Linked DNA regions of Homo sapiens. The protein of the gene in region 3 interacts with the protein of the main gene of each other region in a pairwise test. Each region holds a gene or a part of one and is shown on either strand. Other genes may lie near its edges.

The links.
Region 1: the proteins of FAM161B (region 3) and MEIS3 interact in binary tests that used the Homo sapiens proteins (3 or more experiments, as listed by UniProt).
Region 2: the proteins of FAM161B (region 3) and MID2 interact in binary tests that used the Homo sapiens proteins (3 or more experiments, as listed by UniProt).
Region 4: the proteins of FAM161B (region 3) and STX1B interact in binary tests that used the Homo sapiens proteins (3 or more experiments, as listed by UniProt).
Region 5: the proteins of FAM161B (region 3) and PPP2R3C interact in binary tests that used the Homo sapiens proteins (3 or more experiments, as listed by UniProt).
Region 6: the proteins of FAM161B (region 3) and VPS52 interact in binary tests that used the Homo sapiens proteins (3 or more experiments, as listed by UniProt).
Region 7: the proteins of FAM161B (region 3) and BICD2 interact in binary tests that used the Homo sapiens proteins (3 or more experiments, as listed by UniProt).

Annotation. Positions count from the first base shown.
Region 1 is NC_000019.10:47,413,028-47,416,527, forward strand, and holds part of MEIS3 (homeobox protein Meis3), read right to left. Parts: intron 2,075-3,500; coding exon 2,024-2,074; intron 1,840-2,023; coding exon 1,690-1,839; intron 1-1,689. UniProt on the Homo sapiens protein: Transcriptional regulator which directly modulates PDPK1 expression, thus promoting survival of pancreatic beta-cells. Also regulates expression of NDFIP1, BNIP3, and CCNG1.
Region 2 is NC_000023.11:107,828,866-107,832,365, reverse strand, and holds part of MID2 (probable E3 ubiquitin-protein ligase MID2), read right to left. Parts: intron 1-3,500. UniProt on the Homo sapiens protein: E3 ubiquitin ligase that plays a role in microtubule stabilization. Mediates the 'Lys-48'-linked polyubiquitination of LRRK2 to drive its localization to microtubules and its proteasomal degradation in neurons.
Region 3 is NC_000014.9:73,943,595-73,947,094, reverse strand, and holds part of FAM161B (protein FAM161B), read left to right. Parts: intron 1-489; coding exon 490-809; intron 810-2,209; coding exon 2,210-2,760; intron 2,761-3,500.
Region 4 is NC_000016.10:30,993,639-30,997,138, reverse strand, and holds part of STX1B (syntaxin-1B), read left to right. Parts: intron 1-79; coding exon 80-188; intron 189-382; coding exon 383-456; intron 457-3,500. UniProt on the Homo sapiens protein: Potentially involved in docking of synaptic vesicles at presynaptic active zones. May mediate Ca(2+)-regulation of exocytosis acrosomal reaction in sperm.
Region 5 is NC_000014.9:35,115,491-35,118,990, forward strand, and holds part of PPP2R3C (serine/threonine-protein phosphatase 2A regulatory subunit B'' subunit gamma), read right to left. Parts: intron 1,248-3,500; coding exon 1,120-1,247; intron 1-1,119. UniProt on the Homo sapiens protein: May regulate MCM3AP phosphorylation through phosphatase recruitment. May act as a negative regulator of ABCB1 expression and function through the dephosphorylation of ABCB1 by TFPI2/PPP2R3C complex.
Region 6 is NC_000006.12:33,265,377-33,268,876, forward strand, and holds part of VPS52 (vacuolar protein sorting-associated protein 52 homolog), read right to left. Parts: intron 3,274-3,500; coding exon 3,123-3,273; intron 2,833-3,122; coding exon 2,732-2,832; intron 2,622-2,731; coding exon 2,489-2,621; intron 2,364-2,488; coding exon 2,306-2,363; intron 1,946-2,305; coding exon 1,812-1,945; intron 1,698-1,811; coding exon of another isoform or gene 1,632-1,697; exon of another isoform or gene 1,356-1,631; intron 1,337-1,355; coding exon 1,181-1,336; intron 1-1,180. UniProt on the Homo sapiens protein: Acts as a component of the GARP complex that is involved in retrograde transport from early and late endosomes to the trans-Golgi network (TGN).
Region 7 is NC_000009.12:92,730,334-92,733,833, forward strand, and holds part of BICD2 (protein bicaudal D homolog 2), read right to left. Parts: intron 1-3,500. UniProt on the Homo sapiens protein: Acts as an adapter protein linking the dynein motor complex to various cargos and converts dynein from a non-processive to a highly processive motor in the presence of dynactin.

The DNA.
Region 1 (3,500 bases), on a different chromosome or scaffold from region 3:
TGTGACTGCAGTTTGAAGGTTTGGTTGTCCTGTTTGTGACACTGTTGTTGCGATTCCTGTGCGAGTGGGTATAAGGCTCCAGGACTTGGCCGGCTGCAGTGGCTCATGCCTGTAATCCCAGCACTTTGGGAGGCCGAGGCGGGAGGATCACTTGAAGTCAGGAGTTCGAGGCCAGCCTGGCCAACATGGTGAAACCCCGTCTCTACTGAACAAAAATTAGCCCGGTGTGGTCGTGGGCACCTGTAGTCCCAGCTACCCGGGAGGCTGAGGCAGGGGAATAGCTTGAACCCAGGAGGCAGAGCTTGCAGTGAGCCGAGATCGTGCCACTGCACTCCATTCCGGTCTGGGTGACAAAACAAGACTCCATCTCAAAAAAAAAAAAAAATGTCTCCGGGACTGTGTCTGGGTGGGTCTGGCTGTGGCGTGGTCGTCATAGGAGTGTATCTGAGGTGGTGTGGAGTGGGTGTGCGTGTGCTGTGAAGATGTCATTGCCAGGTGTGTTCACAGTAGGATTGCCTGAGTGTGGCTCTCATGCGACTTCTCAAGGCTTTGCCCCTGTACTCTGTATGGAGCTGTGGCAAGTCGGGATCCACACGGCTGTGCTGTGTGTGTTTTCCGTCTGGTGTCCTAAGTGGATAAAACTGTAGTGAGGCTGCGTCTGAGATGGTGCCACCTTACTGAGTTGCTTTGCTGGGTTTGATTCTTTTTTTTTTTTTTTGAGATGGAGTCTTGCTCTGTCGCCCAGGCTGGAGTGCAGTGGTGCGATCCTGGCTGACTGCAAGCTCCACCTCCCGGGTTCATGCCATTCTCCTGCCTCAGCCTCCTGAGTAGCTGGGACTACAGGCACCCGCCACCACACCCAGCTAATTTTTTTTTTTTTTGTATTTTTAGTAGAGACGGGGTTTCACCGTGTTAGCCAGAATGGTCTTGATCTCCTGACCTCATGATCCACCCACCTCAGCCTCCCAAAGTGCTGGGATTACAGGTGAGAGCCACCGCACCCGGCCTGGGTTTGATTCTTTGTGGCCGCATCTGAGCCTGTGAGTCTATTTCCAAGTCTGCGTAGATGAGTCTGGGGCCATGTGGCTGTGAGTGGTGTGTGCGTGTGATCTCGGCTGCAGCCCGACTGTGATGTGGCCAGGGTCACGTGTGTGCAAGAGGGCACCGTGGTCAGTCCGGGCCCAAGTGTGGTTATATCTGAGTTTGCCGGGCAGTACCTGGGGCTGTTTGGCTCTATGTCCATCTGTGTGGCTGGAGCGGGTGTGTGTATGCAGTGGACACATACTCAATTGAGAACGGCGTGCGGAACCCGGCTGTGTGTTCTATGCTGCTGTCGTATGGCTGGGCTGGGGGGCGTGTGTGAGTACCCGGTGGACGCTACTGTCTGGCTGTGAGCAGAAATGGCTGTTGCTGAGTTGGTGTGGCTGTATGTGGACCTGTGTGGGTGTAGCTGAATCTGTGGGTGGCATCTGCAGCCGCTGGTGTGCGTGTGTCTGTGCACTGTTGCCCAGCCGCATCCGAGTCTGCGTAGCTGTTGTGTAGTGGGTGTGTGGCTGTGTGCATATGCGTGCCCTGTGATCAGGCTGACTGTGGCTTCGTCTGAGGCTGTGTAGTGCACATGCGCCCTCATGCGGTGTCCAGGCACAGCTGTGGCTGCAGGACGATGCCTGGTGCCCGTCCCGGGCCCACCTGGTCTGGGAGGCTGGGGCAGGAGGCTGGGTAGTCCTCGAAGTCCTCCCTGCAGCCGCCGTCCCGATCCTCGATGACCAGGTCGATGGGCATCTTTCCCTTGAGGCAGGTGATGTAGCGGTGACAGAAGTTGTCGCACAGGTCGTGGACCTGGGGGGGCACCGGGGTACTGGGGGGGGCCACCCACGGGGGCAGGGCGGGGGTGCTCAGGGACGGGGGCGGCATTCTGCTTCAACTCCGGTGGGGAGAGAGCTGGAAGGTGGGGGGCAGAGGCGACGAGAGGGGGTGGGATGACAGGGGCAAGTGAGGGTGTGGGGAGGTGAGACGCGCTCACCTTCTCCAGCTCCAGCAGGTGGAACCGCAGCACCTGGATGGCCTGGATCATCTGAAAACGTGGGCGGGAGGTGGGGGGAGACAGAGGGAATTGGGGGAGGGAGCAGGGAGGAAGAAGGAAGAGGAAGAGAAGGAGGAAGAGGAGACACAGAGAAACAGAAAGAGTGAGACAAAATGACAGGGACAGGGAGATGCAGCAAAGAGAGACAAAGACACCAGGTGCAAGGGGGAAAGAGAGAACAGAGATGCAGCCCAGAATTAAGGAAAGAGCAGATGTTAGATTGAGAGAAGCAAGAGACGAAAAAGGACCCATCACAAGCGGGGAGAGCTAAGGTGAGCCATGCTGACTGGCATTCCCATCCTCTGCCTGTTGGCCCCCAGCTCCAGGCCCCACCCACCTGCAAGCTACATTTCCCAGAACACTTGCCAAAGGGTTTGGCCAATAGGAAGCCCTGGCAAGAGCTTGGGGAGCAAAGGATGGGAGAAGCTGGGTATTCCTCCCTCCTTTCTTCTCTCTCTCTCTCTTTTTTTTTTTTTTTTTTGATATGGAGTCTTGCTCTGTTGCCCAGGCTGGAATGCAGTGGTGTGATCTTGGCTCACTGCAACCTCTGCCTCCCAGGTTCAAGCGATTCTCCTGCCTCAGCCTCCTGAGTAGCTGGGACTACAGGCGTGCACCACTGTGCCCAGCTAATTTTTGTATTTTTAGTAGAGACAGGGTTTCATCATTTGGTCAGGCTGGTCTCGAACTCCTGACCTCAGGTGATCTGCTTGCCTCAGCCTCCCAAAGTGCTGGGATTACAAGCATGAGCCACCGCACCCGGCCCTCTTTTTCTTTCTTTCTTTCTCTTTCTCTAGCTCTCTATGAGAGACAGGGTCTTGCCCTGTTGCCTGGGCTGGTATGCAGTGGAGCTGATCAAGGGTCACTACAGCCTCGACCTCTTGGGGCTCAAGCGATCCTCCCGCCTCAGCCTCCAAAGTAGCTGAGACCACAGGTGCATGCCACCACACCCCGCTAATTAAATGTTTTTGTAGAGGTGGGGTCTCGCTACGTTGCCCAGGCTGGTCTCGATCCCTGGCCTCAAGCTATCTCCTGGCCTTGGCCTCCCAAAGTGCTGGCATTACAGGCGTGAGCTGCCGCACCCAGCCTCCTCTCCTTGGGCAGCAGTCCCTGCGCTCACTTTGGCATAGGTGCTGATCTTCTGACGGATGGAACATCAGACACTTTTTGAGCCCTATTCTGTGCCAGGTGCTGTTCCACGCACTTGAATCGCATTCACTCATTAAACCCCCACAGCAGCCCTCCAAGACAGACATTACTACCAGCCACACTTCACAGACGGGACACCAAGGCACGGAGATGCAGAGTGACTTGCCCTGGGTCACAGAGCTGGTGAGTGGCAGAGCTGGGATTTGAACTCGGGCCATGGGTCCCGTTCTCAGACTCTAGGCTGTACCACACGGCACGTGGGCAACAATCA
Region 2 (3,500 bases), on a different chromosome or scaffold from region 3:
ACTCCTCCACAAGACTTCTGGAAGATCATGGGACTGATCATGGTATTTGTTATGCTCATGTCTTCACTTTTAGACTGGGATCCCCACCCCTCTCCAAGTGAAGGGCTGTCTCTTTTCTTTTCTCTTAAACTTTCATCCTGCACAGGGAGAACTCAGAACTGGAGGCTGATTACCGACTGGCAGAGAGCACCAGTGCCAGCTCCTGTCTAATAGGTTATTAAAGCCTACTTAATATTTTATAGTACATGGAATTAATGTATGTTCTTTTCAATAATTAGTTTTTAAATCCAAACATTGAGTATTTTATACAAGATAGTCATCATATAAACATTAAAATGAGTATCAAAATAGCAGAACTAGAAGTCCTAAATCTGCTACAAACCCAAAAGGTTAATCCAAGTAACCAACAAATGGATTTGCCAAGGTAACACATGATAATTGACAGGAATCCTAAATACAATTCATAACACCTTTATCTTAATGCAGATTACACTGGCAGTTGCAGGGTTGAGGAACAAATGGAAAACAAACTTAATTTACCTATGACTACTGGTACAGCTTTCCATCTCCTCTAGGATTGCTTTTCCTAACCTCTGTTACCCAACAAAATATTTGTAAGTTTTTAAATGTTCAGTGGTTCACCTGGACAGGCAGTCATCTACACAATAAAAATGGCAATATATGTATGTAAGACATGTTATTGAATGTTAGGCTGAGAGGACCCCAAGTTCAGGTCAGAAACAAGGGACAGAGAACAGAGGCCTATTTGAAATCAAGCTTCTACTTCCCTGGGAACCACATGGATCCTAGCAACACTGAACAAAGGGCTATACACAAAGTGATCAAGGATCTGGATCGTAAACCATTTTTCTATCTCTGTGCTGTATATATTAAGACACTTCACTGTCATGAATTAGCATTGTCTGCCATGCCCATACATTATGCTCCTATCCAGGCAAATTGCAAATACTGGGATTTCATGTTTCAGGACGATTTCAGATTGTATGATGGGTTTGTTATCAGATTGTTCGGTCTCAGTAAGACGATGATCCAGAGACTGGGGATGCCGTTCATCAACCAGCGGAGTCTGACCTACGGGAAGGAAGCTGAGACAAAGCCCAAGGTCAGGCAGCCAGAGCTCTGCAGGGAGGCCAGAACCCAAGTAGGATAATGCTTACAAATGATACTTTGCCAACCCACTTAGGCTGAACCAGCATCCTAGAGTGTATTCAGGTGAATCCCACAAGGAAAAGGAAATAATGGGATGCTGGCACATTACTCAAAATCCCTCCACCACCCACACTTTAAGCATCTTATACTATCTAGTAGTCTTAGTAATTTATAGAATTTCTAAAAGAAAACTCAGCATCTGGGAGATTCATCATCAAAAGGATTATATCTGCCTATGGTCATAAAGAAGGGGAAGACAGAAAGAGAGAAACAAATAGAAACAGCCACAGACTACTTAAGCCCACAGAAAACTCTTAGCAGAGTTTTAATACATGAAAGTGGAGAAAGGAACATATTTAATATATTGAGGAGGTAAATAAAAAGTAGATTAGCTATCTGTACAAGAAGATAATTACAGCTGGAATTTCTTGTCTCAACACCACTCATCTGGTCTTCTCACTTGCTAGCATGACCCAACACACCAGTTGAGAAACACTTTTCTAGTCTCTTCTGTACACTGCTTAGTGATGAACACAATATTTTTTGAGAGACCTGAAGTACAGATGTTAGTGCAACACCATCTTGGTACCAAAATTTCATTTATCAAAATGTAAACAATTTTGAATTATCCAAAACTGTTGTATATCCAGTATCAACATGTTACATCTCATATTTTGATGATGCAATGTTCTAAGTCAAGACACCCAGCTTAATGAGTAAGGAGTGCTTCATGAACACAGAGCTTCATTCTCGCTTTTGTGCCAAAGAGAGGACAAAAACTTAATGCTAAATGGAAATGGAGCACCCCCTGGCCTCTACTAGCAGCCGAGCCCCATGGCCTAACAGCAAGGATATTACCAAGATTCATAAAGATTGAATGGCAGACACACACAAGACCAAGCAGGTATTTCCAAGAGCAGCCATTTGAGACATATTCTGTGCCCACAGCCCTGTCTTCACCCTTTTAAGGGCTCTGTGTCCCTGTCTGAAAAGACAGAGCTTGAGTTCTATGGGATAGAATGAGAAGACAACATTCTCTCCTCTTCACCAAGCCAATGAGGTTTGCTGAATGATGAAGACAGACATACTCCTTGTGTAGTTCCCTTGTCAATTATTGTGGTGTCAGCAGATTTTATGGGAGGAGGGATGAAGGAATGGACAGGCTCACTACTCAGAGCAATATTTGGATGCAATTGTGAGACTCCACTGGCACCACTTTAGGATCTGCGAGTTGAAGCAAGTTTCCCTGCTCTTAGGGAAGGGATTAACTAAATCAGTTTTATCTAAATCAATTTGCACCATTCAGATGATATGTTCATAAAGCAATCAAGTCACTCTGATTTACAGGAGTACTTCCCAGAGGTGGCCTTGCAGGGTGCAACATGCCAGACGAGAATTCTAGTAGTCATGAAAACAAATAAGAGGGACACAACCACCCTTTCATGTCCCTAGCCTCTACCCATGTCCTGCACAGCCCCTCCCTGACCTAATCCTGGAGTTGCAAGTATGGAGTTTGGCGTGGAACAAGCAGGAGGCCAAAATACTGGGCTAAATCTGGGGCCTCAGCCCAATCAGCAGAGGTCCTCTGCACATTATAGGTGCTTAATATTGTTGACTCTGCTACTAGGTGCTAATCATGCTTATATAGCCATACCCCAAATTATTTATGACACTTTTCATTAGAAGCTAACAAACTGCCCCCATATAGGCTAAAAAATGGGTGAGGTTATGTCTTCAAATTAGTCTGACTCAGATTGTTAGGTTAGAGTGCATTAGAAATGATTCAAGCCTCAACTTAAATTGATCATTATTACTCTGTATGCCTAGTTGCATGTATGTTTTCATTCAGTTGAACATGTATTGGAGAAAAACCAGATTTAGGACCTACGTACAATGATACGATTTGGCTCTGGGGGTGGGAAGCTAAAGGTTTTCAGTAAGCTAAGATTCCTGCTTACACCCAGTCAATCCACTAACTCAGTAAAAGGTAAAGGAAGTGCTTTCTTTGAAAAGTATAATGTTGGCTGGGTGTGGTGGCTCACACCTGTAATCCCAACACTTGGACTTGGCAGGTGGATCCCTTAAGCTCAGGAGTTTGAGACCAGACTGGGAAACATGGTGAATCCTGTCTCTACAAAATATTCAAAAATTAGCCGGGTGTGATGGTGTGTGCCTATAGTCCCAGCTACTAAGGAAGCTGAGATGGGAGGATTGCTTGAGCCAGAGAGGTCAAGACTGCAGCAAGCCATGATCACACCACTGCACTCCAGCCTGGGTGACAGAGCGAGACTTCGTCTCAAAGGAAAAAAAAAGTATAATGCTGAGGGTTT
Region 3 (3,500 bases):
TCCTTGACAGAGTGCAAATTAGCTAGAACATGAGGAAAGCAGAGGAGTAGAAATAAGGGAAGGGAGAGAAGGAAGATGAGCAAGAAGTAGGTTAAAACCCAAGTAAGGGAGAGTGTGGCCATCATCATGGGCAGGATTCCTGGAGTGCAGGGGTCAGAAAGCCTGGTGTAGGTGAGGTACTCTGTAAAAGCTTACTGCACTGTATGGCATAGGGAACCAACTTCAGCTCTTCACTTCCCTCTCCATCCCTTCAACCAAGCGCACTTCATAGACCAAGTTGTGAAATTTCTTTAGACCAAGAAACACACCTTATTTTTAAAAATTCCTCCCAAAGTGTTGGGATTACAGGTGTGAGCCAGTGCATCTGGCAGACCCCAAATTCTCCCCAGTCCCTAATATACAGAAGCTTATTCAAAGCGAAATTAAGTTATGATTTGAATACCTTTGAAATTATTGTTTGACCCACAGCCTATTTCTATTCTATTTTAGATATTTCCCCCCGAGTCCTTCGCAGACACAGAGGCAGGAGAGGAGCTGTCCGGGGATGGGCTGGTTTTGCCCAGGGCCAGCAAACTTGACGAGTTCCTCAGCCCAGAGGAGGAGATAGATTCTACTTCTGACTCAACTGGGAGCATTTACCAGAACTTACAGGAACTGAAGCAGAAAGGGAGATGGTGTCTGTTGGAGTCTCTCTTTCAGTCTGACCCAGAGAGTGATGAAAACCTCTCTGAAGATGAGGAGGACCTGGAGAGTTTCTTCCAAGACAAGGACAGGGGGATGGTGCAGGTCCAGTGCCCGCAGGCTCTGAGGTAAGGCACTGCAGCTCCACGGCTGCCTCACTCCACACCTCCACACAGGTCACATCGTGTCTCTGGGCTTCATCTTCCTCTGTAAAGCAAAGAGCACTTCTGCAAGTTGCCATTTACTGAGGCTCTAGCTGAGAATCAGCTTTTGGTTCCAAACAGGTGTTCTGATTCCTCCCCAGGAATCCTGAATTACTTTGGGCAACACTTAGTCCAGTGATGCACTGGAATTAATTAAAGGGCAGCCTTTCCTCAGGTGCAGGGGCTCACACCTGTAATTCCAGCACTTTGGGAGGCTGAGGCAGGCGGATCACTTGAGGTCAGGAATTCGAGACCAGCCTGGCCAACATGGTGAAACCCCATCTCTACTAAAAATACAAAAATTAGCCAGTCATGGTGGCGTGTGCCCGTAATCCCAGCTACTCAGGAGGCTGACGCATGAGAATCCCTTGAGCCCAGGAGGTGGTGGTTGCAGTGAGCTGAGATCACGCCACTGCACTCCAGCCTGAGCAACAGAGCAAGACTCTGTCTCAACAAATAAAAATAAAATAAAATTTAAAAATGGGCCGGGCACCGTGTTTACGCCTCTAATTCCAGCACTTTGGGAAGCCGAGGTGGCTGGATCATGAGGTCAGGAGTTCAAGACCAGCCTGGCCAAGATGGTGAAACCCCGTCTCTACTAAAAATATAAAAAAATTAGCCGGGCATGGTGGCAGGTGCCTGTAATCCCAGCTACTCGGAAGGAGAGGCAGAGAATTGCTTGAATCTGGGAGGTGGAGGTTGCAGTGAGCCAAGATCACGCCCAGCTTGGGCAACAGTACAAGACTCCATCTCAAAAAATAAGTAAATAAATAATAAAAAATAAAAAAAAATACAGGGAAGCATTTCCTAAATACACTTTCCCTGAGAATGACAACAAAGTACCTTTATCTTGGTCAAGCCTTAGAAAGTAAATATTGAATGAGATAAAGTGTACATTATCTCATTACTTTATCTTATTTAATATTTACTTTCTCCTCCAATAACCTGGTAAGTAGACATTAATTTTTGCCACTCTACATAGGAGGAAATTGAGGTTTTAACAGAACTTTGCTCAAAGTTTGAAGCAAGATTTAAACCCAGGTCTGTCTGACTCTAAAGCTCTACTCTGCTCATTGTTCTCTCTCTCATATGAAATATTAGAGTGCAAAGTGGCAGTTCTTGGATCAATTCTGAGAAGAGACTTTCCATTAGGGCTGCCAGGATTGTCTGTGGGAAGGTCATGGACATAGAGGCCTGTGGGGCTGTGGTGTTAGGCTGAGCAGCCAGCTGTGACCAGTGGGAAGGGAGGACTGGGGAGGAGGTCTGGAGGGAGCAGGGCCTCCTGACTGCCCTGTCCTCCACTCACAGATCTGCTTTTTTCCCAGGTGTGGCTCCACAAGGCGCTGCAGCTCCCTGAACAACCTTCCCTCCAACATTCCCAGGCCTCAGACCCAGCCACCCTCAGGCTCCCGGCCTCCCTCCCAGCACAGAAGCGTCAGCTCCTGGGCATCATCCATTACTGTCCCTCGGCCATTCCGCATGACGCTGCGCGAGGCCCGGAAGAAGGCCGAGTGGCTGGGCTCACCTGCCTCCTTTGAGCAGGAGAGGCAGCGGGCCCAGAGGCAGGGTGAGGAAGAGGCCGAGTGCCACAGGCAGTTCCGGGCACAGCCTGTGCCTGCACATGTCTACCTGCCCCTCTACCAAGAGATCATGGAGCGCAGCGAGGCCCGAAGGCAGGCAGGGATCCAGAAGAGGAAGGAACTGCTCCTCTCTTCTTTGAAGCCCTTCAGCTTCCTGGAGAAGGAGGAGCAGCTAAAGGAAGCTGCTCGACAGAGAGACTTGGCAGCCACAGCTGAAGCCAAGATCTCCAAGCAGAAGGCCACCAGAAGGATTCCCAAGTCCATTCTGGAGCCAGCCCTTGGGGATAAACTCCAGGGTAAAGACATCCTTGCCACCTTGCTGCCTCCTGCCTCGGGGAACCAATCCCACCATAGGGATTTAGTCAGGGCCCAGGGATCTGCCTGGCTTGGAGATTTGCTGCTTGGGTGGACCCACTAGAGGCTGCACGCTTAGTGCAGGCCATTGGGGAGGGTTAGGTCTGTCTATACAATCAGGACCTGTATGGTGCCAGGAGTGAGAGGTCCCACAGTGTCCCCAAGGCTCGTCCTGTTGACATCTAAGTGAATGCACATGAGGGCCTCTGCACCAGCACAGGTGCAGGAATAGAGAACCAGTGAGACACCTGAGGACCAGCTTGGGCTCATGCCACCACCAGCACACTGCCCTGAGATGCTCCCCCATGGCTCCTTCGTCCTGGTGAGGTAGTGTCAATCGCCGAAATTACCTGGGGGATGATTATTTACACATTTCCAAAAGTATAGCTCCAAATAAGGGGCTCAGGCTTTATTCACTTTTCGGTAGCATGTGCCATGCTCCAGGCACTGTGCCATGGTGAACACACAGACATGGAGTTTGTAGATATGTGAGGAAAACAGATAAAGACAAATACATACAAATGTGGCGAGTTATTTACAAGGATTAAAAGGGGAAGCATGGGAGCATATATCAAAGGGACCTAACCCGGGGATTGGTGAAGCAAGGGAGCAGTTAGGGAAGGTCCCCTGAGAAAGTGGGCCCTGGGGCTGAACTGAAGGAGGGGCGAAGAGGGAGGAGAAG
Region 4 (3,500 bases), on a different chromosome or scaffold from region 3:
CCTCGGTCTCTGCTCCCTGACTCCCTCCCTGATCCCTGACTACCTCCCTGATCCGTCTGTCCCCCCACCCCCACCGTAGCACTCCACACTGTCCCGGAAGTTCGTGGAGGTAATGACCGAATATAACGCGACCCAGTCCAAGTACCGGGACCGCTGCAAGGACCGGATCCAGCGGCAACTGGAGATCAGTGCGTGTGCCCCCCACCCCAGGACCCCGAACTCCTTGAGGCTGCCCAAGCCCCCTTCCAGGCATTTCCTCTCTGGAGGGGGCCCCTGGCTTAAGGCGGCGTGGGAGGGTGGGCCCCAGGTCCCCGCCCCATCACCCCACCTCAGGCCCCCAGGCTGTCCCAGCCCCCGAGCAGGGAGTCCTTTCTTCCCGCAGCTGGAAGGACCACCACCAACGAAGAACTGGAAGACATGCTGGAGAGCGGGAAGCTGGCCATCTTCACAGATGACGTGAGCCGCGGGTGGGGCGGGCTCTGCTTTTGGAAAATTTTTGCCTCCCCTCCCTAAGTTCAGGTTGAACTAAGGTCCTAAGTCCACCCTGGAAAAATGAGCAGCGGGAAGCCTGAGCCGGGAACTGGGGAATTCCATGGGAGCGGAGCAGGAAGGCACCCCCATCAGATGACGGAGTCGTTCGTGTGCCAGGCACTGTTCTAAGCACTTTCCATCTTCACATTCACCCACCAACTCATTTAATACTCACACATCCCCTTCGAGGAAACCCCATTTCACAGATGAGGAAAACTGGCCCAGAGAGATGAAATCACTTGGCAAGATCTCAGAGCGAGGGAGAGGGCCAGGACTTGAATCCTGTCTAGTTTCAGAGTCAGAACTCTCGAGCCCTAGGATACACGACATACTCTGCTACTGAAGCAAGTCGTTTCACCAGAGAACTGATTTGCCTACATTAAAAGAAATTTTTTTTAATTAAAAAAAACTTTTTTTCTTTTTTTTTTCTTCAAGACGGAGTTTTGCTCTTGTCACCCATGCTGGAGTACAGTGGCGAGATTTCAGCTCACTGCAACCTCCGCCTCCTGTGTTCAAGCGATTCTCCTGCCCCAGCCTCCCGAGTAGCTGGGATTACAGGCGCCCACCACTCGGCCTAAAAAAACCTTTTTTTGTAGAGATGGGGGGTCTTCCTCTGTTGCCCAGGCTGGTCTCAAACTTCTGGGCTCGAATAATCTGCCTGCCTCAGCCTCCCAAAGTGCTGGGATTACAGACGTGAACCACCGAATCCAGCCTAATTTGCCTACATTTTGAATATTTTTTTTAAAACAAGTTTTAGTTTTGCTTAGGTTTTGTCCCCTGTGCTGCCCTTGTCCTTTTACATATGAAAGGATGGGCTGGCCGGGCCCAGTGGCTCATGCCTGTAATCCCAGCACTTTGGGAGGCCAAGGCAGGTAGATCACCTGAGGTCAGGAGTTCGAGACCAGCCTGGCCAACATGGCAAAACTCTGTCTCTATTAAAAATACAAAAATTAGCCGGGCATGGTGGCACGTGCCTGTAATCCCAGCTACTAGGGGGCTGAGGCAGGAGGATCACTTGAACCTGGGAGGCGGAGGTTGCAGTGAGCCGAGATCTTGCCACTGCACTCCGGCCTGGGCAACAGACTGACACTCTGTCTCTTAAAAAAAAAAAAAAGAAAGAAAGGATGGGCTTTCCCCGAACCTAGTTCTTGTTTCTCTCAGTGGACTTTTGCCCCGGCCTGCCCACTCCTGTCTCCGTTTCTGTTTCTGGTGGCAAAATGACTCTGGTTAAGGGTTCTAGACCAGGTTTAAAGGATGCGCTATGACTGTCTTAAAAGTTTTCAGCTCATTGTTATTTGGAGAACTGATCTTTGTTGAAAACGCATTGAGCAGCCCGGTGTGGTGGCTCACATCTGTAATCCCAGCATTTTGGGAGGCCAAGGAGGATGGAGGGCTTGAGCCCAGGAGTTCGTAGACCAGCCCGGGCAACAAAGTGAGACCCCCATCTCTACAAAAAAAATGTTTTTTTGATTTAAAAAACAATTTCTTTTAATGTAGGCAAATCAGTTCTATGGTGAAACCTGCTTTAATTAGCCAGGCATGGTGGCGTGTGCCTGTGGTCCCAGCTACTCGGGAGGCTAAGGTGGAAGGATTGCCTGAGTACAGGAGGTCAAGGCCGCAGTGAGCTATGATAGCACCACTGCACTCCAGCCTAGGTGACAGAGCAAGAACTTGTCTCAACAAAGAACAAAAACCAAAAAAAAAAAAAAAAAAAAGACGGGGAGACTGAACACTGTCCAAACAGCCATTGTATGATTTCGGCTTATAGAATGGTCATAGGATGAGCAGGAGATGAGGGGAGAGGGAGTCTGGGCCTTGACTGCTGAAGGGAAGGTGTGGAGCCTTGGGTAGTGGGGAGCCATGGCAGGCTGTAGAGCAGAGGAGTGGCTCAATGTGGTAAGAACAGTGAGTAATTTGGGAAGTGAGTCACCTGGCTGAGGCTGGGTGTTTGTGGAGAGGAGGCATATCTGACTGTGGGTCACGGTCTCTTCCCCACTGGCTTTCTTTTTTTTTTTTTTTCAGCATGGTCTCACTCTGTGGCCCATGTTGGAGTGAAGTGAAGCAATCATAGCTCACTGCAGCCTCGACCTCCTGGGGTCAGGCAATCCTTCTGCCTCAGTTTCCTGAGTAGCTGGGACCACAGGCGCCACCATGCCCAGCTAATTTCCTTTTTTTTTTTTTTTTTTGATAGAAACAAAGTCTCACTATGTTGCCCAGGCTGGCCTCAAATTCCTGGGCTCAAGTGATCCTCCTGCCTTGGCCTCCCAGAGTACTGGGGTTACAGGCCTCTCCCTACTGACTCTTTTTTTTTTTTTTGAGACGGAGTCTCGCTCTGTGGCTCAGGCTGGAGTGCAGTGGCGCAATCTCGGCTCACTGCAAGCTCCGCCTCCCGGGTTCACGCCATTCTCCTGCCTCAGACTCCCAAGTTGCTGAAACTACAGGCGCCCACCACCACACCCGGCTAATTTTTTGTATTTTTAGTAGAGACGGAGTTTCACCGCATTAGCCAGGATAGTCTTGGTCTGCTGACCTCGTGATCTGCCCGCTTCAGCCTCCCAAAGTTCTGGGATTACAGGCATGAGCTACCTACTGTGCCCAGCCCTGACTCTTTTTTTTTTTTTGAGATGGAATTTCACTCTTGTTGCCCAGGCTGGAGTGCAGTGGCGTGATCTCAGCTCACTGCAACCTCTGCCCCCCCGGGTTCAAGCAATTCTCCTGCCTCAGCCTCCTGAGTAGCTATGATTACAGGTGCCCACCACCACACCAGGCTAATTTTTATATTTTTAGTAGAGACGAGGTTTCGCCATGTTGGCCAGGCTGGTCTCAAACTTCTGACCTCAGGTGATCTACACACCTCCCAAAGTGCTGGGATTACAGGTGTGAGCCATCGTGCCTGACCAATGTGTACATATTAACTCACTCAGTCTTCACAACCACCCTGTGAGGTGGGCAGTGTTATGATCCACATT
Region 5 (3,500 bases), about 39 Mb from region 3:
CTCTATCACCCAGGCTGGAGTGCAGTGACCCTACCATGAATAGCTTTTCTTAAGGTCTATTTTGTCTATACGTCCCTTCATAGCCATTTTCAGAGTTTTGGCACAAGGAAAAAATAATCAAGTGAAATTCCTTTTTTGTTTGTTTGTTTGAGACAGAGCCTTGCTCTGTCACCCAGGCTGGAGTGCAGTGGCGCGATCTGGGCTCACTACAACCTCCACCTCCTGGGTTCAAGTGATTCTCCTGCCTCAGCCTCCTGAGTAGCTAGGATTACCGGCGCGCGCCACCACGCCTGGCTAATTTTTGTATTTTGAGTAGAGACAGGGTTTCACCATGTTGGTCAGGCTGGTCTCGAACTCCTGACCTCATGATCCACCACCCACCTTGGCCTCCCAAAGTGTTGGGATTACAGGCATGAGCCACCATGCCTGGCCTCAAGTGAAATTCTTTAGGTTTTCCATAATCTATTTTTCGGTTTAGCCTTGAGCAAAATTTTAAAACTTTATAACAAAGTGTATACCTGATAACATAATCCAATAGAATACTTACTACTAATATCTATAATAAAAATCAGAAAGAAAAAGCCCACAGTTTAACAACTTTGTGTTTACATACCCACTTAAATCTAAACTTGGGATTTTATTGGGCTCAAAATGTTTTATAATAGTGATAAGATCAATTACAATAAAATAATATATAAAATTTAAAATATAATTCTCTATTTTTAAAACATAAAATTCTGGTCCTATTTTTAAAACTACTTTTTTTTCTGGGGGTGGGGAGGACAGGGTCTAACTCTGTTACCCAGGCTGGAGTGCAGTGACACAATCACGGCTCACTGCTGCCTCGATCTCCTGGGCTCAAGTAATCCTCCTGCTTCAGCCTCCTGAGAAGCTAGGACTACAGGCATGCATCACCATGTCCAGCTATTTTTTAAAAAATTTCTTTTAGAGATGGGATCTTGCTATGTTGCCCTGGCTGGTCTCAAATTCCTGGACTCAAGTGATCCTCCCGCCTCAGCCTCCCAAAGTGTTGGGATTACAGGTATGAGCCACCCTGCCTTGCCAAAAATTATATTTCATTTTTAAACTCTGCAGGACATTTGATTAGACACTACTTACCCTATAATAAAACCGGGGAATGGTCTTATAGAATTCATTTGTGTTTTTTCTACCTCCTTTCCATTCGGAGTAATATTTTGTAAATAAATCCATTTCTTCATCTTTTAATTCTTGTTCACTTTTTTTTTCTGGTAACAAAACAGATTAAGGGGAGCACTTTTAAAATCAAGCAGTACTTTTACTCAGGTCATCCTATATATTATATTAATAGTTTAATTAAAATAGTTGCAGTGCCAAAAAGGCCTTCACAATTGTGCTTAGACACTGAGCATATTAACTTTTCTGAAATACCAAGAATCACTACCCTCTACTGAAGCAGCCTCCTCTACATCTTCAACCATTTCTCATGCTCCCTCTACTTCTGTTTATCGCTAAAGCTAGTCTCTTCCTCAAATTACCTCTCCTACAGAACTCTGTAGAGTGCTCCTAATTCATTCAATGAAAAGAATTTACTGAGCACCTACTATGTACAGAGAACGCTGTAGTAGACACGGAATGAGGGGTGAGCAAGACAGCCCCAGCCCCTGACCTCATGGAGTTTCAGCCTCATAATCACTGTTTCTCTACCTAATGTAGAGAAAACAAACAAAAAAACTCATCCTCTGTCTGAAGCTCAAAACTCAGGGCTCTATTACCCTGCAACTCGCCTGCTATTGGCACGTGGCTGTCTCATTCAGCCAATTCCTCCCCACTTATTTGTGGACTATGGTGACTGGTACACAGTGTTCTTCACAAGGTCCTGCAATCATTTAGGATGAATAAACATTTATGTGGGTGACCATGGGTCCTGCAACTCCAAAGACTTTCACCTCTAGTTCATTCTGCCATTTGGTTCTATGACAAGATCACAGATTTTACTTGATCCCTTTCTGAAATCTTAAGCTCAAATATACTCTCAGATCATCCTTTCTGGTAATTCAAAACCTCACTGCCATACCATTTCCACTTCAGCCTCACTGAGCTCTTGAATTCTGTGATCTATTTTCTCAAAAGTTATTTTACTCTTTCTGGTCTCATTTCCTTCCCAACAAGCCTGTAATTGTTTCCTTGAATTCCTTTTATGACTGCATTTCTGCTGCATCTGTTAATTTTTTTTTTTTTGGAGATGGAGCTTCACTCTTGTTGCCCAGGCTGGGGCGCAATGGTACGATCTCGGGTCACGGCAACCTCCGCCTCCCAGGTTCAAGGGATTCTCCTGCCTCAGCCTCCTGAGTGGCTGGGATTACGGGCATGTGCCACCACGCCTGGCTAATTTTGTATTTTTAGTAGAGATGGGGCTTCTCCATGTTGGTCAGGCTGGTCTTGAACTCCTGACCTCAGGTGATCTGCCCACCTCGGCCTCCCAAAGTGCTGGGATTACAGGCATGAGCCACCATGCCTGGCCTATTATGTTAATTTTTAACCTTAGACCAAACCTATAAGTTAATTTCTTTACTATGGCTCAGTGCTGTTGTAGAAAACTGCAAAATTTTTCAAGCAAAGTCAAGACTGACAACTGACCACTGAAGTTAACAATATAGCAGTCACTGATGATTCTTGACAAGCAGGAATTCGAGACGAGTACAGATTTAACCAACAACTGTTTTAACAAATATTGCTATAAGGGGAACAGAAAAATGAGGAATGGCTAGAGGTGGAAATTAAGTCAAGAAAGTTTAAGATGGGAGAAATACCAGCATGTTTATATGCTGATGGGAATGATTAAAGAAAAACTGATGATACAGGAGAAGGGACAACTGCAAGAGTACATCCTTCAGCAGGCAAAAATGGAATCTACTACAAAGGATAGGATCTAGTACACTGATGAAGGAACCAGACTTACGCAGGTGCTGTACAACCTATATAATTTACTTATTATTTTATTATTTCTCTCCACACTAAAGTGTAAGTTCTACAAAGACAGAGATTTTTTTGTGTTCTGCTATAAGCTACAACGGTACTTGGCACAAAACAGGCATGCAATAAATATCTGCTAAAAGAATGCAGTGGGTTTAAGAGTTAAGGGGTCAAGAAAGCACACAAAGTACAAGTACAGGTACCTTCCTTTTTTTTTTTTTTTTTTCCGAGACTGAGTCTCACTGTCACCCAGGCTGGAGGGCAGTGGCGCGATCTTGGCTCACTGCAAACTTCACCTCCTGGGTTGAAGTGATTCTCCTGCCTCAGCCTCCTGAGTAGCTGGGATTACAGACACTTGCCACAATGCCCGGCTAAATTTTGTATTTTTAGTAGAGAGAGCGTTTCACCACGTTGGCCAGGCTGGTCTGTCTCCTGACCTCAGGTGATCCACCCACTTCAGCCTCCCAAAGTGCTGGGATTACAGGCATGAGCCACTGCGCCCAGCCAAGTACAGGTAACTTCTTTGAGAAGTTTTCCTATGAAGA
Region 6 (3,500 bases), on a different chromosome or scaffold from region 3:
TTTCGGCTTTAGAGACAGGTTGTTTTGTCACCTAGGCTGGATTGTAATGGTACAATCATAGTTCACTGCAGCCTCAAACATCTGGGCTCAAGTGATGTTCCCACCTCAGCCTGCCAAGCAACTGGGACCATGGGTGTGTACCACCATGCCTGGTTAAGTTTATTTTTAAATTTTTTGTAGAGACAAGGTCTTGCCGCATTGCCCAGGCTGGTCTCGAACTCCTGGCCTCAAGCAACCTTCCTGCCTTGGTCTCCCAAAGTACTGGGATTGCAGGCATAAGCCACTGCACCTGGCCACACCAGGATCTATGATCACAAGCCTATCACAGCAGAGTTCAGGGCTGAGCTTGGGTCAGGGGTTTGAGCACCAAGATTTGGGGGACCCTCAGTTTTCACGTGCTATTGCCTGATTGTGGGTCAGCAGTAGGGGTAGTCTCAGGGACCCTACGCACTGAGGATTTCATGGGGGAGTAACACTGTGACAAGTCTAAGTAACAAGTTTTTTTTTTGAGATGGAGTCTCGCTCTGTCACCCAGGCTGGAGTGCAATGGCGCAATCTTGGCTCACTGCAATCTCCTCCTCCCAGGTTCAAGCAATCCTCCTGCCTCAGCCTCCCGAGTAGCTGGGATTACAGGCCGCGCACACCTGGCTAATTTTTGTACTGTTAGTAGAGACAGGGTTTCATCATGTTGGTCAGGCTGGTCTCAAACTCCTGACCTTGTGATCCTCCCGCCTCAGCCTCCCAAAGTGCTGGGATTACAGGCGTAAGCCACTGCACCTGGCTATTTTTTTTTTTTTTTTTTTTTGAGACAGGTCTCACTCTGGAGTGCATGGCTCACTGCAGCCTTGACCTCCTGGGCTCAAGCAATCCTTCCACCTCAGCATCTTTAGTAGCTGTGACCACAGGCACACATCAACACACACCCGGCTAATTTTTCATTTTTTGTAGAGATGAGGTTGTTGCCCAGGCTGGTCTCAAACTCCTGAGCTCAGGCAATCCTACTGCCTTGGACTCCCAAAGTGCTGGGATTATGGGTGTGCACTACCACGCCCAGCCAAGGCTTAGACATTTTAGAATGAGGCGATCCTGATTTCAGTTCTACCAGAGTCATGACCCCACTATGCTGCTGATGAAGACTGGGGACAAAGGTGTTGAATGGTACAGGAAACAGGAGTCTTACCAGGGTCATGCTGAGTGTACGGCCCATGACAGCATGGAACAGGTCGTGTGCAGCTGGGCCAGACACAACAAAAAATTCACAGATGAAAAGGTATTCGCGGCAGGAATTGTCTAGGAGGGCGTAGTGCTGGCTGCGGAAGAGGGCCTCAAATGGATACTGGGAGAGGAGGAGTAAAGAAGAAAAACAGAAGGGATGGACCCCAACACTGACTTCCCATGGATATGGCTGGAAAATCAGTAAACCTGAGTAATAAGAGCTAGGCAGACCCTTCGCATCTATCTAGGTCCGGGCTGTCTAAGAGCAAGCTGAATGGGCACTGAAAAGGTGGGGGAACATAGGGGTACAAAAAGGGCCTACACCCACCTGCTGTTGCTACTCCTGCATCCACCTCAACACCTGCCTCTGACTGTCATTCCCCTCATCCAGTCTCTCCCCTCTGCATGCCCTTAAGTCAATGGTTCCCAGCTCTTTTCACATCACAGCAGGCTGGAGTGATTGGAGAAGGCCACTCCCAAGTCTAAGGGGATTAAGACAGGGCCTGCAGGTTGGGAAGCTCTGCCCTGAGGTCTGGCCTTCCCTCCCCACCGTGCTCAGAGCCTCTTTCGTGACTGAAGCTTGTTCCTCCTCATACCCTCTGCTCTCCGCGCTGCGCTGTGTGAGGCACCAGGATGGGGGCCTCAAGTTCAGTGGGGGAGATGACAGAGCCGCGGGTTCCTAGGGTGAAAATGGTGTTCCTGCTGCGGAGCGATGGCTTTGAGAAGAATCGTAAGATGGGTCAGAGTCAGGGAAAACAATGAGACCATAACTGGGCCCAAAGACTCACTATCTGTGGGGACCCCAGACAGGCAGACGTGGCCTAGCCAGCCCTCTTTCCCAGTACTAGGGCCCCACGTGCTGACATCTGTGAATGGGCTTCAGGGTGTCTCTCCCTCCCTTGCAATCATATGCAAAACTATGTGTCAAAATAATGTGTGCATCTTTCTGGGGAGGGAGGCTATAGCTTTCATCACATTCTAAAAGGTTTCAGTCCCATAGGAAAAGGTAAGGAGCAGTGCATTGGTGGCTGGAGTCGAAAGTCCTCCCACTCTCAAGGCCTGGCATGAGGGTTCCCCAGTACTAGGATATCTTTCTTTGCTGTATCTTCCACACCCATTAGATCATCTTTCTCAGCGACTTCCTCATACTAAGGAAAGAGAAAAGAGAACTGATAACCGTCTCTTCCCACAACACAATAAAATATTCCTTGCCCAGGGATGTCCCCTCCTCCCAGTCCATGTGCCCAGGAATACCTCTCCCTCCTGACCTTACCTGCACCTTCATGAGCCGCCCCAGGTAAGAGCGGTAGTAAGACAGGTAAATCTTGCTCAGCGTCTCCACATATTCATCCCTGATCTCCTTTGCTGTTGCTCGTTCATTGCCCAGCAGAAACTGATAGAAGAACCTAGGGGGTCAGGAACATGTCAGTCTACCTGTCTCCCAAGAAACCAGATGCCCACACTAGGCCGCTCAAAAACTCAAAGGCCATCCCATGCACTTCCTTGGGGTTGTGACCTGTACTTCAGCAGGGCCGTCTGGGGGATCTGATAGTTGGTCATGGGTTTCCTGAAGGAATAAATCTTCTGGAGGATAAACTCTCGGATCTTCGTCACTGCCTAGATGTGGGGAACCAAACACAGGGCATGAAGCTGCAACCCTTTTGCTGTATGAGAGGAACTGGGGGAAGCAACAAATGGTAAACATAGGCAGAAGGGTGGTGAATATCTCTTTGGTATTTCTCAAGATTTTCAGGGAAACCCAGAGAGACAAGAATGGGGCTGCCCAGAAAAGGCAGGGTGAAGTCCCTGGAGACAGGCTACAGTGAGCTCTGCCAAGGAAATCCATAGTGAAGATCTTGGGAAGGCTGCTTCCAGTAGCCTCCAGGGTATCCATCCCTACTTCCCACCTTGACCCGGAGCCGATCGAGCACGCCTCTGACATCTGCGCAGGCTGCTGTGCCTCTAGCTTCCTGCTCTCTGACTGCGGCTGCCTTGGCATCCAGCTCCTGTAGCTGCTCCAAGAACCTGGGCTCTGTCACTGGAGCCTCCAGAATTGCCCTGGTTAGCAGGGAGGGGTGGGATGAGTTACAAGGGAGACCCAGACATCCCTAAACCAGACCCAGACCACACTCCTTACCTCCAGCCCCTGTCATCTCTACCACCTTGCATTGTACCATATAGTCAGGACACATGTACAAAGTTTTCTATTCCTGGACCTCCCCACTATACACCTGATCTTACATCATTCTTAATCTTAATCTTTGATGCCTAATGCATACCTAAAG
Region 7 (3,500 bases), on a different chromosome or scaffold from region 3:
ACTCATTTACTATTTAATATTAAATCTAAGAATTCAGTCCAAGAAAATAGGGAAAATGTAAAAAACCATGAATAAGGATGTTACTGAGCAGGACAGTTTCTAATTTCAAGAAATCAAAACAAAGAGTAACTCATTTCGTCCCAACAGGAGACTGGTAAAAGAAACCAGGGTCTAGTCTGAGTATAGACTCTCATGGGACCAACAGGGGACTCAAGGGGAAGACAGACTGATTGATCTTACAGCACTGTGAGGATCACAGGATCCTGCCTGGAAGAGCACACATGTGCTATGGCAGGTGTGGTGACATGTGCTGTGATGTATGTGTTGTGTGTGTGTGTCTCGTGGTGTTGCGGGGGACACCCCTAAACAAGGCTAACAGGACAACACAGCCCAGCAGGAAGACTGGTGCTGGCAATGGGACTGCACGGGGGGACTCGGGATTGACATGGACACTCCTGCTGCGGATGCACAGATGTCTATGGCACCCACACTCCTGAGGAGGCTGGGTCTTGCTCACCTGCCCCCACCCATCAACACAACACCCACTACGTGGAAGATGTCCGCTTTTCTTCAAGGCAATCGGGTCAGCTCTGTGATTTCTGCTCTGTTCTTCCTTATCCTAGTCCCAAGGAAGGTCCAAATCATAATGTCTACACAGCACCTCATCCACCCTGGCCAGCCACCCCGGGCCACAAGAAGGGAAACCGGACATGGAATTGGCCCCAGCTGCAGGCTCCCCACCCAAGTGGCAGCCAGGCCCCAAGTCCCTCATTGGGTGAAGGGCCCGCCGGCTGCAGGCGGCATGGGCAGCGCCAGACCATCTGGGCCTCCTGACAAGCAGGAGGGACCCAAATGAAGGGTCCAGCACACATGGCTGCTCAGAACACACCCACGAGCCTGGAGCTGGGGATGCAGACATCACCTCAGAAGCTTCCTCCAGGTATGACAGCTAAATGCCATGACACGACATTCAAGTCCTAGCCTCCTGGCCTGAGCCCTGGATCTTTTCCTCTGCTTAAGCTCCCAGCCTGGGGCCCAAAACACTCCTGGGCAGCTTTTCAAACACACTGAGATACAGACTTCCGCGTACAGCCAAGATGAGATTGTTGCAGAAATTAGAACTACCTTCTGTGTGAAAACTTAAAAAAAAAAAAGAAAAAGAAAAAAACCAGGCAATGATAGAATATAAATAAATAATAAGCAGTGGTTTTCACATCATGGGCACTAGATAGTGAGAGACAGGAGGAGGGGAGTTCCAGGAGCCCCCTCCACCAAAAGAACTTCCCAGCCATGGAAAAATGGGAGACTGAGGCAAGGCGTGGCAGACCCTGTCAAGGAGGGACTGGAAGATGGCGGAAGATGGCAGCAGGGCAGCCAAGCTAGGCAGACCTGCACACAGGGCCAGAATCTCCACTGAGGACCAGGGAGCACAGAGCTGAAGAAGTCACTGAAGGACCACTGAGGGGGCAGAGAAAGCAATCCCCACCATTTATACCAGCCAAAAACAGTACCTGCTCCCAACAGCAGAGGAGAGCCCTCCTGATGCACAGGCAGCTGGGGAGCACTCCCAGGGCCTGAAAAAATTAGTCTGGATTAAATCTGCTCTGATACCACAGAGCAAAGCATAAAGACAAAACCTGAAAGGATCAATCTGATTCCAAGTCACTTAACTACATCCCAGAACAAAGCTCAAGAACACATGAAGGAATACAAAAACATCCATCTCCCAACAGGTGAGGTCCACTGGCTGGCATCCCGTCACTTACCACTGAGCAGGCAAAGGCGCACAAATGAGGAAGACAGAAAAAGATCCAGATAGAACTTCTAGAGACGAAAAGTACAGTGGATGGGATTCACAGCAGATAAAACAATGCAGAAGAAAAGATCAGTCAACTTGAAAAACCACAGCAAACTATCCAAAATGAAACACAGAGAAAAAAAGGCTAAAAGACAAAAGCAAGACTCAAACAGAGCATTGGTGAAGTATGAAGTATGACACAATTTCAAGAAGCCTTATGTAAGGAGTAATTGGAGTACCCAAAGGAGAAAAAGGGGAAAATAGAAAAAGTAATTGAAGAAATAAATCATAGCTGAAAATTTTCCAAATTTGATGAAAATTATAAACCCACAGATATCAGCAGCTTGTCAACACCAAGCACAAGAAATATGAAGCAAACTACACCAAGGCATAATATAAAATTGTTTAAAACCAATTATATAATAAAAATATTTAAATCAGCCAGAAGAAAAAGGATACATGACTCAAGAGGAGCAAAGATAAATGACAGCTGATTTCTCTAACAAGCCAGGAGATAGTGGAACAACATCTTTTAAACAACAAAACAAAAAAACTTAACTAGAATGCTATACTCACTGAAAACTGTTCACAAATAGAGGTGAAATACTTTAGAGATACAAAAGCTGAAAGAATTTATCAACAGCAGATATGCATTGGTATTTAAAGATATGCTAAATAAAATCCTTCAGGCAGAAGAAAAATAATACCATATGGAAATCTTTATCTACATGGAAGAAATGATAATTAAATAGGCAAATATAAAGTACTTATTTTTCTTATTTAAATCTCTTTAAAAGATAATTAACTTGAAATTCAATGCAATCCCTACCAAAATTCCAAAGCCTTTTTAGCAGAAATGGAAAAGGTGATTTTCAAATTCATATGGAATTGCAAAGGGCCTAGAAGAGCTAAAACAATATTGAAAGGGAATAACAACGTGAGAGAACTCACAATTTCAAAACTTAATACAAAGCTACAGTGATCAAAACAATGTGGTACTAGTGTAAAGATAGATACAGAGACCAACGGGATAGAATAGAGTCCAGAAATAAAACCTCATATATATGGTCAATTGATTTTTGGCAAGGGTACAAAAATAATTTGATGTCAAAGAATAGTTTTTCGGCCAGGCACGGTGGCTCATGCTTGTAATCCCAGCACTTTGGAAGGTCGAGGCGGGCAGATCACGAGGTCAGGAGTTCGAGACCAGCCTGGCCAACATAGTGAAACCTCGTCTCTACTAAAAATAAAAAAAAATTAGCTGGGCGTGGTGGCGGGTGCCTGTAATCCCAGCTTCTTGGGAGGCTGAGGCAGGAGAATGGTTTGAACCCAGGAGGCAGAGGTTGCAGTGAACCGAGATCACGCCACTGTATTCCAACCTGGACGACAGAGGAAAAAAAAAAAAGTTTTTCAACAAATGATGCTGGGGCAAGTAGATACATATATGCAAAATAATGAAGCTGAACCCCTACCTCACATTATACACAAAAATTAACTCAAAATGAATCAAATACCTAAATATAAGAACTAAAACTATAAAACTTTCAGAAGATAGGCTGGGTGCGGTGGCTCATGCTTGTAATCCCAGCACTTCGGGAGGCCGAGGCGGGCAGATCACGAGGTCAGGAGATCGAGACCATCCTGGCTAACACAGTGAAACCCCGTCTCTACTAAAAATACAAAAAATTAGCCAGGCGTGGCG